Linked DNA regions of Homo sapiens: region 2 is linked to region 1. A link means that fine-mapping ties the variant in region 1 to the expression of a gene that starts in the linked region. Tissue or cell type: whole blood. Region 1 holds a variant in brackets; the other region holds the start of a gene. All regions are shown on one strand. Distances are between the middles of the regions.

The links. PIP is the estimated chance that this variant, and not a neighbour inherited with it, causes the effect.
Region 2: it holds the start of MEGF9, and the variant in region 1 is fine-mapped to the expression of MEGF9 in whole blood (TOPMed, PIP 0.94).

Annotation. Positions count from the first base shown.
Region 1 is chr9:120,588,435-120,596,538 of GRCh38, reverse strand. No RefSeq gene overlaps it. Among named protein-coding and RNA genes, the nearest start is that of CDK5RAP2, 12 kb to the right of the region's middle. The variant G/C (reference allele first, on the strand shown) is at 4,595.
Region 2 is chr9:120,710,423-120,718,526 of GRCh38, reverse strand. It overlaps MEGF9 (multiple EGF like domains 9), which reads left to right and starts at 4,057. Exons shown (of 6, transcript NM_001080497.3): 1 at 4,057-4,769. The coding sequence starts at 4,169. RefSeq lists a silencer at 3,520-4,369.

The DNA of each region.
Region 1 (8,104 bases):
ATGGTGAAACTCCGACTCTCCTAAAAAAATACAAAAATTAGCTAGGCATAGCACCTGTAGTTCCAGCTAAACGAGAGGCTGAGGAATGAGAATTCGCTTGAACCTGGGTGGCCGAGGTTGCAGTGAGCCGAGATTGCTCCACTTCACTCCAGTCTGGGTGACAGAACAGAGCAAGACCCCGTCTAAAAAAAAGGATAATAAAGGAAGTTTATGCCAACAAATTTGATGACTTACGTGAAATGTACATATTCCTTCAAAGACACAAACCATGCTCACTCAAAAAGAAATAGATAACCTAAGTAGTCATGTTACCTTTATTTAATTTAATTTGTAGTTAAAAACTATTTGTTTGTTTATTTATTTATTTTTGAGATGGAGTCTTGCTCTGTCGCCCAGGCTGGAGTGCAATGGTGCGATCTCAGCTCCCTGCAACCTCTGCCTCCTGGGTTCAAGCAATTCTCCTGCCTCAGCCTCCCAAGTAGTAGGATTACAGGTGCGCGCCACAGTGCCTGGCTAATTTTTGTATTTTTTGTAGTAGAGACGGGGTTTCACCACGCTTGCCAGGCTAGTCTCGAACTCCTGACCTCGTAATCTGCCCGCCTTGGCCTACCAAAGTGTTGGGATTACAGTCATGAGCCACACCGTACCTGGCCTGTAGTTAAAAACCTTTCACAGGCTATGTGTAGTGGCTCACACTGTAATACCAGCACACTGAGAGGCCAAGGCAAGAGGACTGCTTGAGCCCAGGAGTTTGAGGCCAGCCTGGGCAACAAAGTGAGACCCCGTCTGTACAAAAAAAAAAAGAAAGAAAGAAAAAAAGAAAAATTAGCCATGTGTGCTGGTATATGCCTGTAGTCCCAGCTATTTGGGAAGTTGAGGTGGGAGGATCACTTGAGCCCAGCATTTTGAGGCTGCAGTGAGCCGAGGCTGCACCACTGCACTCTATCCTGGGCAACACAGTGAGACCCTGTCTCCGAATAAACAAAAAACAAACCTTTCACAAAGAAAACTCCAGGTCCAGATAGCTTCACTGGTGAACTCTAGAAATATTTAAAGAAATATTACCAATTCTACACAAACCCTTCCAGAAAAACTAAAGAAGCAATATTTGTCAACTCATTCTATGAAACCAGCATTACCCAAATAAAAAAAGAAGACATAACAAGAAAACAACAGACCAATGTCTCTCATGAATATAGAGAGAAACATTTCTAAGAAAATTCAAGCAAATTTAAGTACAACAATACACTTTAAAAAACAGTACTTCAAGGCTGGGCGTGGTGGCTTCTGCCTGTAATCTTAGCACTTTGGGAGGCCAAGGCGGGCGGATCACCCGAGGTCAGGACTTCGAGACCAGCCTGGCCAACATGGCAAAACCCCGTCTCTACTACAAAAAATACAAAAATTAGCCAGGCGTGGTGGCGCATGCCTGTAATCCCAGCTATGTGGGAGGCTGAGGCAGGAGAATTGCTTGAACCCAGGGGGTGGAGGTTGCACCACTGCACTCCAGCCTGGGTGACAGAGCAAGACTCTGACTCACACACACACACACACGCACAAATAGTACTTCATTACCAACTGGGGTTTATCACATAAATGTAAGTTTGGTATAACATTTAAAAATCAATCAGTGTAATTCACAAAGGCTGAGAAAGAAAAATAATATGATGATTACTTCAATAGCTGTACAAAAGGCATTTGGCAAAATCCAATATTCATTCATGATAAAAATGATGATGATGATGATACTCTCTTGTGTATTGTGATATAATAAGAAATATAGGCTGGGCACAGTGGCTCACGCCTGTAATCCCAGCACTTTGGGAGGCCGAGGTGGGTGGATCACTTGCGGTCAGGAGTTTGAGACCAGCATGGCCCAACATGGCGAAACCCTGTCTCCACTAAAAATACAAAAAAAATGGCCTGGCATGGTGGTGAATGCCTGTGATCCCAGCTACTTGGGAGGCTGAGGCAGGAGAATCATTTGAACCCAGGAGATGGAGGCTGCAGTGAGCTGAGATTGCGCCACTGCACTCTAGCCTGGGCAACAGAGCGAAACCCTGTCTCAAAAAAAAAAAAAAAAGAAATATATATTTGGGTCTTTGTCTAGCTCCCAGCTTTTGTGCAAGTTTCTAAATGATAAGAGCTGTAGTAGCATCTTAAGTTATATTTGGTTTTTGCCCCTGGCTCTTGTAATAGGTCCAGGGTGATAAAGGTGAAAGGAACAACTTTTGTTACTTATCATAAGTCCCTGTTGACCACACCTGAGTTATTGAAGTGACTTTGGAAAAGCCCCTCAAGATGAGGGTGCTGGTTGCCAGAGGAATCAACTGTATGTTTGGAAGATTGAAACGTTTAGCCCAGGAGGTTTTTTCTTTTGTTTGTTTATAGAGAGGTTCTCACTCTGTTGCCCAGGCAGGAGTGCAATGGTGTGACCTTGGCTCACTGCAGCCTTGACCTCCCAGGCACAAGTGTTCCTCCCGCCTCAGCTTCCTGAGTAGCTGGGATTACAAGTGGATGGACTATAAGTGGACACCAGTACACCCAAATAATTTTTATTTTTTTTTAGAGACAGAGTCTTGCTATGCTGCTAGGGCTGGTCTTGAACTCCTGAGCTCAAGCAATCCTCCTGCCTTGGCCTCCCAAACTGCTGGGATTATAGGCATGAGCCACTGTGCCCAGCTAAGGCCAGAAGGTCCAGGCTGCAGTAAGTCATTATCTTGTCACTGCATTCCAGCCTGGGCAACAGAGTGAGGCCCTGTCTCTCTCTCTCTCACACACACATACACACACAGACACACACACACACCCCTCACTATATGTTAGTAAATGAATAAGTGAATCAGCCGTATCACAGTTTCTACACTCATAAGTACAATAAAGGTGTGTAAGTATACTGCAGTCTGCAGGCTTTGAATTAGTGCAAACTTAAACCAAAATCCCAATAAACTGTTATTTTGGAAAGCATCAAGTCACTTGTAAGTAGGGATGTTTGTGAGTGACCCTGGGAACATACAGCACAAAATTCCCTTCGATGGAATGGTGCTGATGAAGCTCATTCCTTCGGTGTAGAGAGAGATCACGCCCACAGACCTGACTGCATGTCCTCAAACACTGCGGCCTGTGCTGACTGAGTAGGAAGCAAACATAGTCCAATATATGGATGCTTTTGGTGTCCTCCCCTTCCTGCCTTTACTTTTACTCCAGAACCAACAGGCTTCATCTCAGCTTTTTAATTTCCCCAAAACATTTTCTAAATGAGCCATTGTTATCTTTAATCACCATGGCTAGGGGGGATTATCCAGCCTCGTTTGAAGAAGCTATTTTTTGCAAAGAGATGAGATCCTTCCAGACAAGGATAAAGACATTAATGTTGTCTATTAAGATTCTGCTTTACTCAAGATAATAATTTTAGGGTAAATTAAGGAAATTGTATAGACGCCAATGGGCCATTAATCCCCAGTGGAATTGTCTGAAATGGAGAGGCCTTTAAATTTGGAAACAAGGAATTTGGCAACAGTTACATTTTGAATTTCCTTCAGTTAAAATGAAAAGGTTTCAATGTTAACAGGTACTGTCCTGGGTAAAGAATTTTATTTAGTTACAATCTGTATCTCAACTTTTTGTATTAAAAGGTAGAGATCATTAAACCTTTGAATTAAGAGTTAAAGTATCAGTTAAGTATACTAAGGAGGAAGCAGAAACATACCAGAAAACCTAGGCTAAAGGCTAAGTTAGCAAATGGCACCCAGTTGAGCTATGAGCTGCCCAACAAACAGCAACATAGATTATTTACCTGTATTACTGTCTAATTAAAAGGTGCATACTGGAACATCAACATAAAATCTATTTTTCTTGGTTCTAAAAGATAATAGCTTATGGTACAAAAAGCATCAGCTTTGAAAGTGATATGGACAGGAGACAGGGAAATACTGAGTAGAAGAGAGCGGTCCCCGGCAAAGGCCCCACCCTCAAGCCTGGAGACCTGCAGCCCTAAGTGGGAACAGGCATTTCTGTTTTCGTGCCCAAAAAGTTGCCTTTTTGCCCACCACACCCCCTATCTTGTACCCATATAAACCCCGAACTCCAGGCTCCGGAAGCAGACAAGCAGGGGAGGAGATGAGATAGGCAGAGGAACTGCGGAATGATGCAACAGAGAAAGAGAGACGAAGAGGAACATCTGAATGCCCAGAGGAGTTTGGCTGGGGGTGGTCAGAGAGGAGTTCGGCCACTGGATGGGCAGGCTCCAGGGGAATATCATCTTCCTATTCCATTCCCCCTTCCAGCTCCCCATCCATCCCTCTAAAAACCACCTCCACCACTCAATAAAACCCCACATTCATCCTTCAAGCCCATGTGTGACCCGATTCTTCCAGGATGCTAGGCAAGAGCTCACAATACAGAAAGCTATCACACTGGCCCTCTGCCCTTATGAAAAGGCAGAGGGTCCATTGAGCGGTTTAACACTCAAGCCGTCTACAGATAGGAGGGCTAAAAGGGCACACTGTAACACATGCCCACTTGGGTTCCTGCAACTGCCTGTCTGTGTGTTCCCCCTTCCCTCGGGGGTTTGAGCAGTGGCAGTGACAGGCAA[G/C]CCACACTTGCCTTCACACGTCCTGTGAGAGGGATTGGGGAACCCTCCCATTTCAAAAGCAGAGAGATATGGGTTCTAGTGCAGGCCTCACAACTGTAGGATCTGGGGCAACTTAACAGATGGCTCTTCGTCTTGTCGCCATTACCTATAAAAGTAATAACTTTTTAGTTATCACTAAACATGGGGTTTCGCCATGTCGCTCAGGCTGGTCTTGATGCTGACCTCTTAGGGTTGCAGCAAGGTTAAGTGAAAACCTTATGTGGAGCATCGCAGCACATGCAAGGTCTATAATGAATAGTTCGCTTCCTCTCTCCCTATTATTTAAGAGGTCTTTAGGCTGGGTGCGGTGGCTCATGCCTGTAATCCCAGCATTTTGGGAGGCCGAGGCAGGTGGATCACAAGGTCAGGAGTTCAAGACCAGCCTGGCCAAGATGGTGAAACCCTGTCTCTACTGAAAATACAAAAATGAGCCGGGTGTGCTGATAATGCGCCTGTAATCCCAGCTACCCGGGAGGCTGAGGCAGGAGAATCGCTTGAACCCGGGAGGCAGAGGTTGCAGTGAGCCGAGATCGTGCCATTGCACTCCAGCCTGAGTGACAAGAGAGAAACTCCGTCTAAAAAAAAAAAAAGAGGTTTTAAATAAAAACTTTACAAAAAATGCAATGTTTTTCTATCTCTAGTGAGTGGATAATTGGATCAGGTACCAGCTAGTTTGCTTCCTGACTAGAAAACCAATCTACAGCCCAGTATTTGAGTAAGGCTACTCTTGGGTTTTGGGTATACTTAAATGAAATGAGACACCTCCCTAAGTTGAATTGCTGCTGTTTCTGTGTTTTCAGTGAGTGGTCTGTGGCCAGGACGGCATCCACAGGAGGCTGAAAGAAGCAAAGTGACATGTTGTTGGCATTCTATGGTTCCACAGGGATCCATGAAGAAACGCCATATTTGCCTATGGGAAATGGGTGGGAAACTGGTATTGTGAAGCGAGGAGAGCACAGGCCTGGAAGTCTGCCCATTTTGGGTCTATTCTTGCTCTGTTATGCACTTGTAGAGTGAACTTGGGCAGGCCGCTGAATCCATCTGGATCTCAGTTTTTCCACTGGTAAATCCAAGAAGTTTCGTTAAATGTTCTCTGTGAGGACCTTTTTAATTCTTGTATTCTATTCAGTGGGAAGATAAGGGTGTTCAGAGTAAGATAATTAATTCTGGTTAAGATTTATTAATTCATTCTTTCCTCAATATTTATTAAACACCTATTATCTGCCAGGCACTATAAGAGACCAGAGGGTATAGAGTTAAAAGTTCTTGCTCTCCAGAGTAGCCAGACACAAGAGTATGCACTGTATGATTCCAGTCCTAAGAAACTGTTGAAAGACAAATCTTGGCTGGGCATGGTGGCTCATGCTCGTAATCCTAGTACTTTGGGAGGCTGAGACTGGAGAGTAGCTTGAGTCCAGGAGTTTGAGACCAGCCTGGGTGACATGGCGAAATACTATCCGTACAAAAAATACTAAAATTGGCTGGGTGTGGTGGCATGTGCCTGTAGTACCAGCCACTCGGGAGGCTGAGGCGGGAAGATCGCTGGAGCCCAGGAGGTCGAGGCTGCAGTGAGCTGTGATTGCACCACTGCACTCTAGCCTGGGCGACAGAGGGAGACCCCGTCTCAAAACAAAAACAAAAAAACAAAAAACAAAGGAAAGAAAGAAAAAACAATTTTTTTTGTTGTTTTGATACAGCATCTCACTCTGTTGCCCAGGCTGGATGGAGTGCAGTGGCGTGATCTCAGCTCACTGCAACCTCTGCCTCCCAGGTTCAAAGGATCCTCCTGCCTCAGCTTCCCCAGTAGCTAGGACTACAGGTATGTGCCATTATGCCCAGCTGATTTTTGTATTTTTAGTAGAGATGGGGTTTCGCCATGTCACCCGGGCTGGTCTTGAATTCCTGACCTCACGTGATCTACCCGCCTTGGCCTCCGAAAGTGCTGGGATTACAGGCATGAGCCATCGCGGCCACCTCATGCCCCACTAATTTTTAATTTTTTCTTTGTGGAGATGAGGACTCCCTATATTGAGTAGGCTGGTCTCGAACTCCTGGGCTTCAGCAATCCTCCTGCTTTGGCCTCCCAAAGTTTTGGTATTATAGGTCAGAGCCACCATGACCAGCCCAAAAAGACAAATCTTTAATGAGGAAAAATAGAACAGTGAGGCCGGGTGTGGTGGCTCATGCCTGTAATCCAAGCACTTTGGGAGGCTGAGGTAGGTGGATCACCTGAGGTCAGGAGTTTGAGACGAGCTTGGCCAACGTGGTGAAACCCTGTCTCTACTAAAAAATACAAAAATCAGCTGGGCGTGGTGGTGCACACTTGTAATTTCAGCTACTCAGGAAGCTGAGGCAGAATTATTGAACCCGGAAGGCGGAGGTTGCAGTGAGTCCAGATCTCACCATTGCGCTCCACCTTGTGTGACAAGAACGAAACTCTGTCTCAAAAAAAAAAAAAAAAAAAAAAAAAAAAAAAAAAAAAAAAAAAAAGCCGGGCACAGTGGCTCACGCCTGTAATCCCAGCACTTTGGGAGGCCGAGGCGGGCAGATCACGAGGTCAGGAGATCGAGACCATCCTGTCTAAAACAGTGAAACCCCATCTCTACTAAAAAATACAAAATATTAGCCGGGTGTGGTGGCAGCGCCTGTAGTCCCAGCTACTTGGGAGGCTGAGGCAGGAGAATGGCGTGAACCCAGGAGGCGGAGCTTGCAGTGAGGGGAGATCGCGCCACTGCACTCCAGCCTGGGCGATAGAGTGAGACTCCGTCTCAAAAAATAAAAAATAAAAGAACAGTGATTTCCTGAGGGGGAAGGGAGATTGACTTGGACTGTAACACCAAGGAACCTTGTGGGGTGATGGAAATGTTTCACATCTATGCTAATACAGTAACCACTAGCCCCATGTGGCTATTTAAATTTTAATTAAGATAAACATTTTAAAAATTCAATTCCTCAGTCACATAGCTACATTTCCAGGGTTCAATAGCCACAAGTGGCTAGTGGCTATTGTATTGGACAGTGCAGATTTAGAATACTGTATTTCCATCATCCAAGAAAGTTCTGTTGGAGAGTCGTGTTCTACCTCTCTCTCTCTCTTTTTTTTTTTTTTTTGAGACTGGATCTTGCTCTGTTGCCCAGGCTGGAGTGCAGTGGTGTGATCTCAGCTCACTGCAACCTCCACCTCCTGGGTTCAAGAAGTGATTCTCCTATCTCAGCCTCTGGAGTAGCTGGGATTACAGGCACACAACACCATGCCCAGCTAATTTTTGTATTTTTAGTAGAGATGGGGTAACACCACTTTGGCCAGGCTGGTCTTGAACTTCTGGCCTCAAGTGATCTGCCCGCCTCAGCCTCCCAAAGTGCTAGGGTTATAGGCATGAGCCACCGCGTCCAGTCTGCTATTCTGTATCTCTTGATTCTGATGATGGCTACATGAGTATGTAAGTTTGCCAAAACTCACCAGAATGTATA
Region 2 (8,104 bases), 120 kb before region 1:
AGAAAAGTCAGGCTGCACATTGGCTCCAACAAGGCCCACTCTGACCCCTGCTGTTCTGTGGTCCTTCCCTAAGCCTTTGGCTCCAGGTCTCATGGGCCTTAGCTACAGTTCTGGGGCAAATAGGAAAAGTGCCAGTCAATGTTCTGTTACACAGAGTGTCACAGCTATAATTTTTATTTTTTCTTTTCTTCTTACCATTATGAGGATTTTCCATTTATAGTTAAGGGTGTCAGTGGGAGCCAGCCAGCCTCAGTTTGATTTCTAGCTCTATTATTTACTAAGTGACCATGGGCAAGTTGCTTAACCTGTGACCTAGTTTCCTTAGCTGTAAAATGCAGATAATAATAGACTATAGACTGAATGTTTGTGTCCCCCTAAAATTCACACGTTGAAATCCTAACTCCCCATGTAAAAGTATTTGGAAGCGTTTGGGAGATGATTAGGTTATAAGGGCAGCGCCATCATGAATGGAATTAGTGTCCTTTTAAAGGACACCCAGGGAGCTCACTGAATCTGCTGGTGCCTTGATCTTGGACTTCCCAGGCACCAGAGCTGGGAGAGATATATTTTTTGTTGTCTACAAGCCACAATCTACAGTACTTTGTTGCAGCAGCCCAAATGGACTAAGACATAATAGTACCTATTTCCTGGGGTTTTTAGGATTAAACAAAACAATTCATATGTAGCTCTTGGTATAGTGTCTAGCATAGACTATGAGCTCAATTATTTACTATTAATATTTGCTATACTGTCTTCATAGCTACACTTACAATGACTTTCTAGGATTAAATTTAACAGGTATAATAATACCTTTCTTTGATGACAGATATGTAAGGTATTTCCAATTTTTAAACACAAACATAATTCCTAAGAAAGTCATCTTGTAGTTTAGAGATTAAGGAAGATTTAAGATTAAGGAAATTTAAAAATTAAATGTTGAATGGACATTAACACATTTAAATTACTGGTATCTTTCAAAAAAATTCAATATTTTCTATACATATGACAGGCTAATATCCCATCTTAAAAGCCCCGGCATGGATGATCCTTGCCTAAGGCAGAGAGCTGACCTGAATCACTCGACAAGGTCTCCTAGTCATTTGCTCTGTGGCTCTCCTGGCCAAGAAGCTGCATCAGCTTTTTTCCCCTTGCCAGAGAACCTCTGATACAGCAAAGCTCAGGGCCAACCCAGCATTTTTCAGATATCATTTGGAAATATCAGGTAGGGCAAGTGTCAGGCCATGTCACCTGATGGGGAACTTATGGGGCAGGGGTTTCTGCTCTGGTCCTTCAGCCAACAAGTCTCAAAGTTAGCAATGGTATAACAAAAATATGAACCTACACAGCTTGAGCACCGTCTGTGTGCTAGGCTCTGTAAAAACATTCTCCTCAATCCTAGTCAACAAATGAGAGACTATTTATTGGCCCCATTTAATAGATGAGAAAAGTGGCCTGGCGCGGCGGCTCATGTCTGTAATCCCAGCACTTTGGGAGGTCTAGGCCGGAGGATAACTTGAGCTCAGGAGTTCGAGACCAGCCTGGCCAACATGGTGAAACCCCGTCTGTACTAAAAATACAAGAATTAACTGGGCCTGGTGGCAAGTGCCTGTAATCCCGGCTACTCGGGAGGCTGAGGCAGGAGAATCGATTGAACCTGGGAGGCGGAGGTTGCAGTGAGCCAAGATCACCCCACTGCACTCCAGCCTGGGCGACAAGGGTGAAACACTGTCTCAAAAAAAAAAAAGTGGGGGGGAAAACTGAGGCTCAGAGAGGTGAAAGGTTTCCTCCAAGGTCACAGAGTTGGCAGTCATGACCCAAGTCTGTCTGACTCTAAAGACACAAGCTCCTCCCACAAGCACGACAAGACCTCAATTAATTCAATTTAACCAGCATGGGTTGGCACTTACATGTGTTGCCCCTGCTAGGTTCTCAGAACAGGGAGAACATCTGACGTAAGAGACAGACACATAAATAACAAGTTCTAGTATTAAGGCTGATGCATGCCTATGAGAAGTAATAAAGCCATGTGGGCAATACAATTTATCCTGTTGTATATATTTCTGAAAGCCATCCTTAATCCTTTTAGGAAGAGGCAACGGAGAGGTAGATTGGTAGATCAGGGCTGTAATCAATGCATAAACAAGGGGTGGTGGGGAAATGAGAAGGGAGAGATTAATTCCCACTCAAATCCAGGAATGTCTTTTAGAGAATGTGACATTTTGGTTGGGGTTTGAAGGGCCAGGGAGGGTCAGCAAGGGAATATGGGGGACTGGCATGACCTGTCCACCCTCCCAAAGCAAAGTAAAAATAGAACCTTGGTTAGTGCTTGCTAAATATTGGTCCTGAAGACAGAACACTCACATTCTCCCTCATTCCCGCTGTCTTATATACATAGACCTATCAAGACACACCCATAGATAACCACAAATGCAAAAACACAGAAAATACACAAAAACACACACCAGTACACATGCACAGATTATTAAGACACAATATATGAAAATAGATACTAGCTCCCATACTCATAAACTCACACAGATACATACAACACTCATACACACAGACTCACAAACATGTTTATGCATTCATACACAGCCTCCCCCACCCACTACTCATGCAGGAAAATAAATGCATGCTTTAATTAACATACACGGGTTCACACATAAATCTCATCCTGCTGGTCTGGTTGAAGACCAATGACTAATGGGAAACCATGCACAAAGCCAAACATCACGTAGGGGAGGCCGGGATTGGGTTAGCAGTGGGGCTTGAATTAAGCCCCATCAGATGACAAACCCGCCCTGCCTGGCTTCCTCTGGAAGCTGCTGAGCCGAAGCAGCAGCGCCTGACCTAGCTCTGGATCCTGGGCGGATGATGCGAGGCTGCGTGCCCGAATTCCAGCTTGATTCAGGGTTTAGTGTCATCCAGGGTCAAGCTCGGCTATTAGCCCCACCCCAACCCCTGCAACCAGCCGGAGGCTCTGGGGGCACTGAAGGGCTGTGGCCTGGGGCTGCTTTCTAATCCTGGGCTTGCCCTGGCGCAAATGCTGAGAATAGTTAGCATTAATGAGGGTTACAACAGTGGGCCAGGCTCTGGGCTAAGCCCTTTACGTCCATGACTTAATTCTCACAACAGCTCTGTGAGGGGGGTGGGGGGTGAGGGGTGTCCTATCATCTCCATTTTAGTGGTGAAAAAACCGCGCTCAGGCCACAAAACCATTCAGCAAAAGACATCAAGTTGAGGTTCAACCCTGTCTGATCCTATTCTTCCCGGGGTTTAGGTAAGTGTGCTTGCGAGCCTGTCTCCTCCACGCAGGAAGCTTGCACCTTCTGCCCTCAGGGGTCTCCACCGCCCGGTCCCGCCCCCTTGTCCAGTCTGGCACAACACCTGGCCCACAGCAGGTTTCTGGTGAGGGCGTGGGTCTCGGTTCAGGGAGGCCCTCAGCAAGGGCCTCAGCTTCCCCATCTCTGAAATGGGAATGGCGGCAGAGACCTCGCAAGGCTGCGACCAGGCTCTCTGGAGCAGCAGAGGGCATGCCAAGCTCTACATCGTCGCTGCCGCTGCCCTCTCCCATCGCGGGGTTCCCGCGCGGTCCCCGCCCGAGCTGGGGTGCGGCGCTGGCGCCCCATTGTTCAGGAGGGCGGGGATGCTCCCGAGTGCTGATTCCACCCCCCGCTCGTGCTCGCAGCCCGGTGGAGCAGATGACTAGGCCCGGCGTCTGCCGCGCGGGGCGCATCCTTTGTCTGCTCCGCGGCGCCCGGTGCCCGAGGCCCGCGCCCCACTCTTTGGGCAGACAAAGCCGGGGCCGCCGCGAGCCCGGCGGGCTAGAGCTGGGCTCGCACCACCCTTCTCCCGCCTCACGGACCGCCCCCTCTCCTGGACGTCCTCTGATTGGCCTACGGGGCTACAAAGAGGCCGGGAAGCGGGCGGATCACGTGGGCGACTGTGGCTTCCCATTGGTTAGGCGCGGCTGCCAATCGAGGAGGGCGGGCGGTCCGCGCTCGGTCCGGTCGCTCCCTCCGCGCTGGGGCCCGCCCGCGGGGCCGGCCGCCTGTCAGAGGGAGGTGGCGATGGTGCGCCCGGTGGCGGTGGCGGCGGCGGTTGCGGAGGCTTCCTTGGTCGGATTGCAACGAGGAGAAGATGACTGACCAACCGACTGGCTGAATGAATGAATGGCGGAGCCGAGCGCGCCATGAGGAGCCTGCCGAGCCTGGGCGGCCTCGCCCTGTTGTGCTGCGCCGCCGCCGCCGCCGCCGCCGCCGTCGCCTCAGCCGCCTCGGCGGGGAATGTCACCGGTGGCGGCGGGGCCGCGGGGCAGGTGGACGCGTCGCCGGGCCCCGGGTTGCGGGGCGAGCCCAGCCACCCCTTCCCTAGGGCGACGGCTCCCACGGCCCAGGCCCCGAGGACCGGGCCCCCGCGCGCCACCGTCCACCGACCCCTGGCTGCGACTTCTCCAGCCCAGTCCCCGGAGACCACCCCTCTTTGGGCGACTGCTGGACCCTCTTCCACCACCTTTCAGGCGCCGCTCGGCCCCTCGCCGACCACCCCTCCGGCGGCGGAACGCACTTCGACCACCTCTCAGGCGCCGACCAGACCCGCGCCGACCACCCTTTCGACGACCACTGGCCCGGCGCCGACCACCCCTGTAGCGACCACCGTACCGGCGCCCACGACTCCCCGGACCCCGACCCCCGATCTCCCCAGCAGCAGCAACAGCAGCGTCCTCCCCACCCCACCTGCCACCGAGGCCCCCTCTTCGCCTCCTCCAGGTGAGTCCGGCGCTCCCTCTCGGGCAGGACCCGTCCTCACCTCAGCCCCGGCAATCTAGGGTTGGGCTCTTGCCTATAATTTATCGTTTGTTACCCCAAAGACACCCCAGGTTCCGGCTCCCGAGGGGGGATCCCAGGTCCAGCTAGTCTCCCTCCCGCCCCCGATCAATCTGGAAAGTCTTTTGTCCCCCGTGGGCTGTGCTCCCTCGGGAGGGGGTGGCTGCTGGGTGGAAGGCATCTCATCTTCTTCCCAACAGGGCTTTCTGGCCTTTTTCAGAGACCAGAATGGGCGCAAACTTTTGGGTTGGGTTCGCGCACCCAGCCTCTCTGCCTGGGTTATTTGGGGAAGTTTGAAAGCCCGCATAGTACCTCCTTCAACCACTGGGTCAAAAGCTGAGGGTAAGGAATTCCTCCCAAAGCTCCAGTTTCCCTGTTCATTTCTTCTTGTTTATGTAAATATCAGATGTGTGTGTATGACAGGTGGAAGAGAGGTAGTGAGAGGATTTTGTTTACAAACAGTAGTATGGACCACTTGAGGGCAAAAAATAAAAACAAAAAAGGCATTGTAATCCATGTTGTCCCTGCAAATAAGTGGATTCAGTAGGTCATTTGGGACAGGTGTGTATCTAGGCTGAGCACATTTACAAATTAGGTTAAATCTCTTCCTCGCACCATTTTTTTCTTCCACAATTATAAGGTCAACATGTTTGGCCAAATACACCATTTAAGCAAGGATGCCTATTTTTGTCTCCTTAAGCCAGGATGTTCAACTTTGCTGATGCTGATATATGCCAATTTCTGTTTGAGCCCACGTAGAAAAGGCTTTTCTTGCTGAAGTCTTCAAGCAAAGTTAAAGACAACTCGTATTCTTTCCCCGTTTAAATCTTAAGTGGGCCTAGGACTAAAACAAAACAAAACAAAAGCCTACTTTGTCAGAACGTTTGGACAAAAGTTTCTGAATTGTCTTGCTTTGAGTTGGGGTGGAGGTTTGTCCAAATCCTTTGTCTAGCTGGGTCTCTGACCTAAATCTTAGGCTTAGTGATTTACTGTGGAGTCAGGTATGGACTTTGGACTATAATTGAGTGTGTAGAGAATTTTCCCACATGGTTATGAACCTTAATACAGTCTTGATCCTTGGGTTGGAGCTTGGCAATGACATAAGTAGGATTATTCACCCATAAAAAGCCAAGTGTGCATCTCTTCCAGCTTCAAGGAATGCATTAGCTAGCTGGGTTTTACCTGTAACCCCTTTTGGCTTTCATATAGAGAGATTGACATATTACTGAGAGACAGGAAGCATAGTGGTTGAGAGTATGGACTCTGGAGTTTATTCTTAGGTTTGAATCCTAGCTCTTCCCCTTGTTAGCTGTGTAAGCTTAGGCGGCTCACTGAAGCTCTTTGGACTCAGTTTCTTTGATTGTGAAATGAAGATAATATTATAGTAGTACTTAACTCATAAGGTTGCTGTGAAGACTTTTTTTGTTTTTGTTTTTGTTTTTTGAGACAGGGTCTGGCTCTGTTGCCCAGGCTGAAGTGCAGTGGCACAATCTTGGCTCACTGCAACCTCTGCCTCCCAGGCTCAAGCGATCCTCCCACCTCAGCTTCCTGAGCAGCTGAGACTACAGGCGTGGGTCACCACACCCAGCTAATTTTTTGTATTTTTTGTAGAGATGAGGGCTCACTATATTGCCCAGGCTAGTCTTGAGTTCCTGAACTCAAGCAGTCCTCCTGCCTCGGCCTCCCAAAGTTCTAGGATTTCAGGCATGATTCACTTCACCAGGCCTGCTGGGAAGATTAAATAAGTTAACACTTACTGTGCTTACAACAGTTCCTAGTGTAGAATAAGCACCGTGTGTGTTAGCTATGCTTATGACCAGGCCTGTGGGTGTGTGTGTGTGTGTGTGTGTGTGTGTATGTATGTATGTATAGAAAGCATTTGAGAAAACTAGTAGGGACTTGGGGTGATTTTTATTTGTTTTAGTAAAATATAATAGAAAAAGAATGAATTAGATTCTCTGGAGTTTTAAGCATACAGTAGCATTTAAGTAGAAAGATCACTTACTTTGGTTAGTATCTGATAAATAAATCTGTGTAATTCATGTTATTTTACTTTTACTATTTTTGTGTTGTTATTTTTCAACCCCAAAGGTAACCCCTACTGGCAAAAAAATATAAACAACCAGAAGTCCACAAAGGAAAAAGGGAAAGTCACTCCTTCACTGCCTCCTAGTTTCAGTCAGTCCCTAGAGGTTACTACTGTTAGCAATTTGTCAGATCTTTTTTCAGCTGTTTTTGCTGGGCATATATGAACATACACACAGGGTATTTAAAAATAGATTTTAAAAAATCAAAATGGAATAATTCTATACATGTTTTGCAACTTGTGGTATTCACTTAACTATGTATCATGGACTTTTAAAAAAAATATCGGTATCTAGGGTCTACTTTATTCTTTTTAATAGTTGCATTTTCCAGGGTAAGAATGTATCATAATTTATTTAACCAAGCCCTTATTTATGGACACTTAGATTGCTTCTAGGCTTCACTTTAAAAAGCAGAGAGGAAGCAGCACAGAGTATTTTTGTTAAATCCATCATCTATTTACTATATTCTCTAATACTTTCACTGGAGTTGCTTAGAATCCAATTCAGTATACACTGCAGTAAAGCTGGATTGAGTAATATTTGTCATCTGAACTGTTGTTCAAGGCTTTTAATAATTTTCATGAACTAACATTATACTTACGTCTGTGATGGTCTTTGGGTGAAAAAATCTTGGAAGGATGTCCAATTTCGATAACTTTCCTGTGTTTTAAATATTAGGTAGTTTGTACTTCTCTGTGAATTCACTCTAGATTGCCAATATCTAGTTCTCAGCAGCTAAATTGACTTTACAGTGATCTGATCAAGTATGGAGCATGGGCTCCAGTCTACTTTAAACAGAAAACATATCTCTTTGGCAGAAGGAAAACTTATAATTGAATTTGAGACAACTGGTTTGGCTTGCAAAGTTGGATTCCCTGGCATTTGAGAAGATGGTTGTACAGTATTTTTTAATTTCAACGTTCCTGTAAGAACTAATGCCACTGATAATATATTATTTGATTGAATAGGTCTTATAGATGCTTTTTGAATTAATAATAATTTCTTTCATGGAGATCTAGCTGAGAGCTCTTGCCTGCCCCTCAGTTAGGGCCCTTTTTTGTTTACAAGGACACTGATCTGCAAACTGAAACTAATTGCCCAGCAAGCAGGCACTTTTTCTCCCACAAACCCAGCAAAACATTCACTGATTGGTTGGCTGGGTAGGACTTTTTTTTTTTTTTTTTTTTTTAA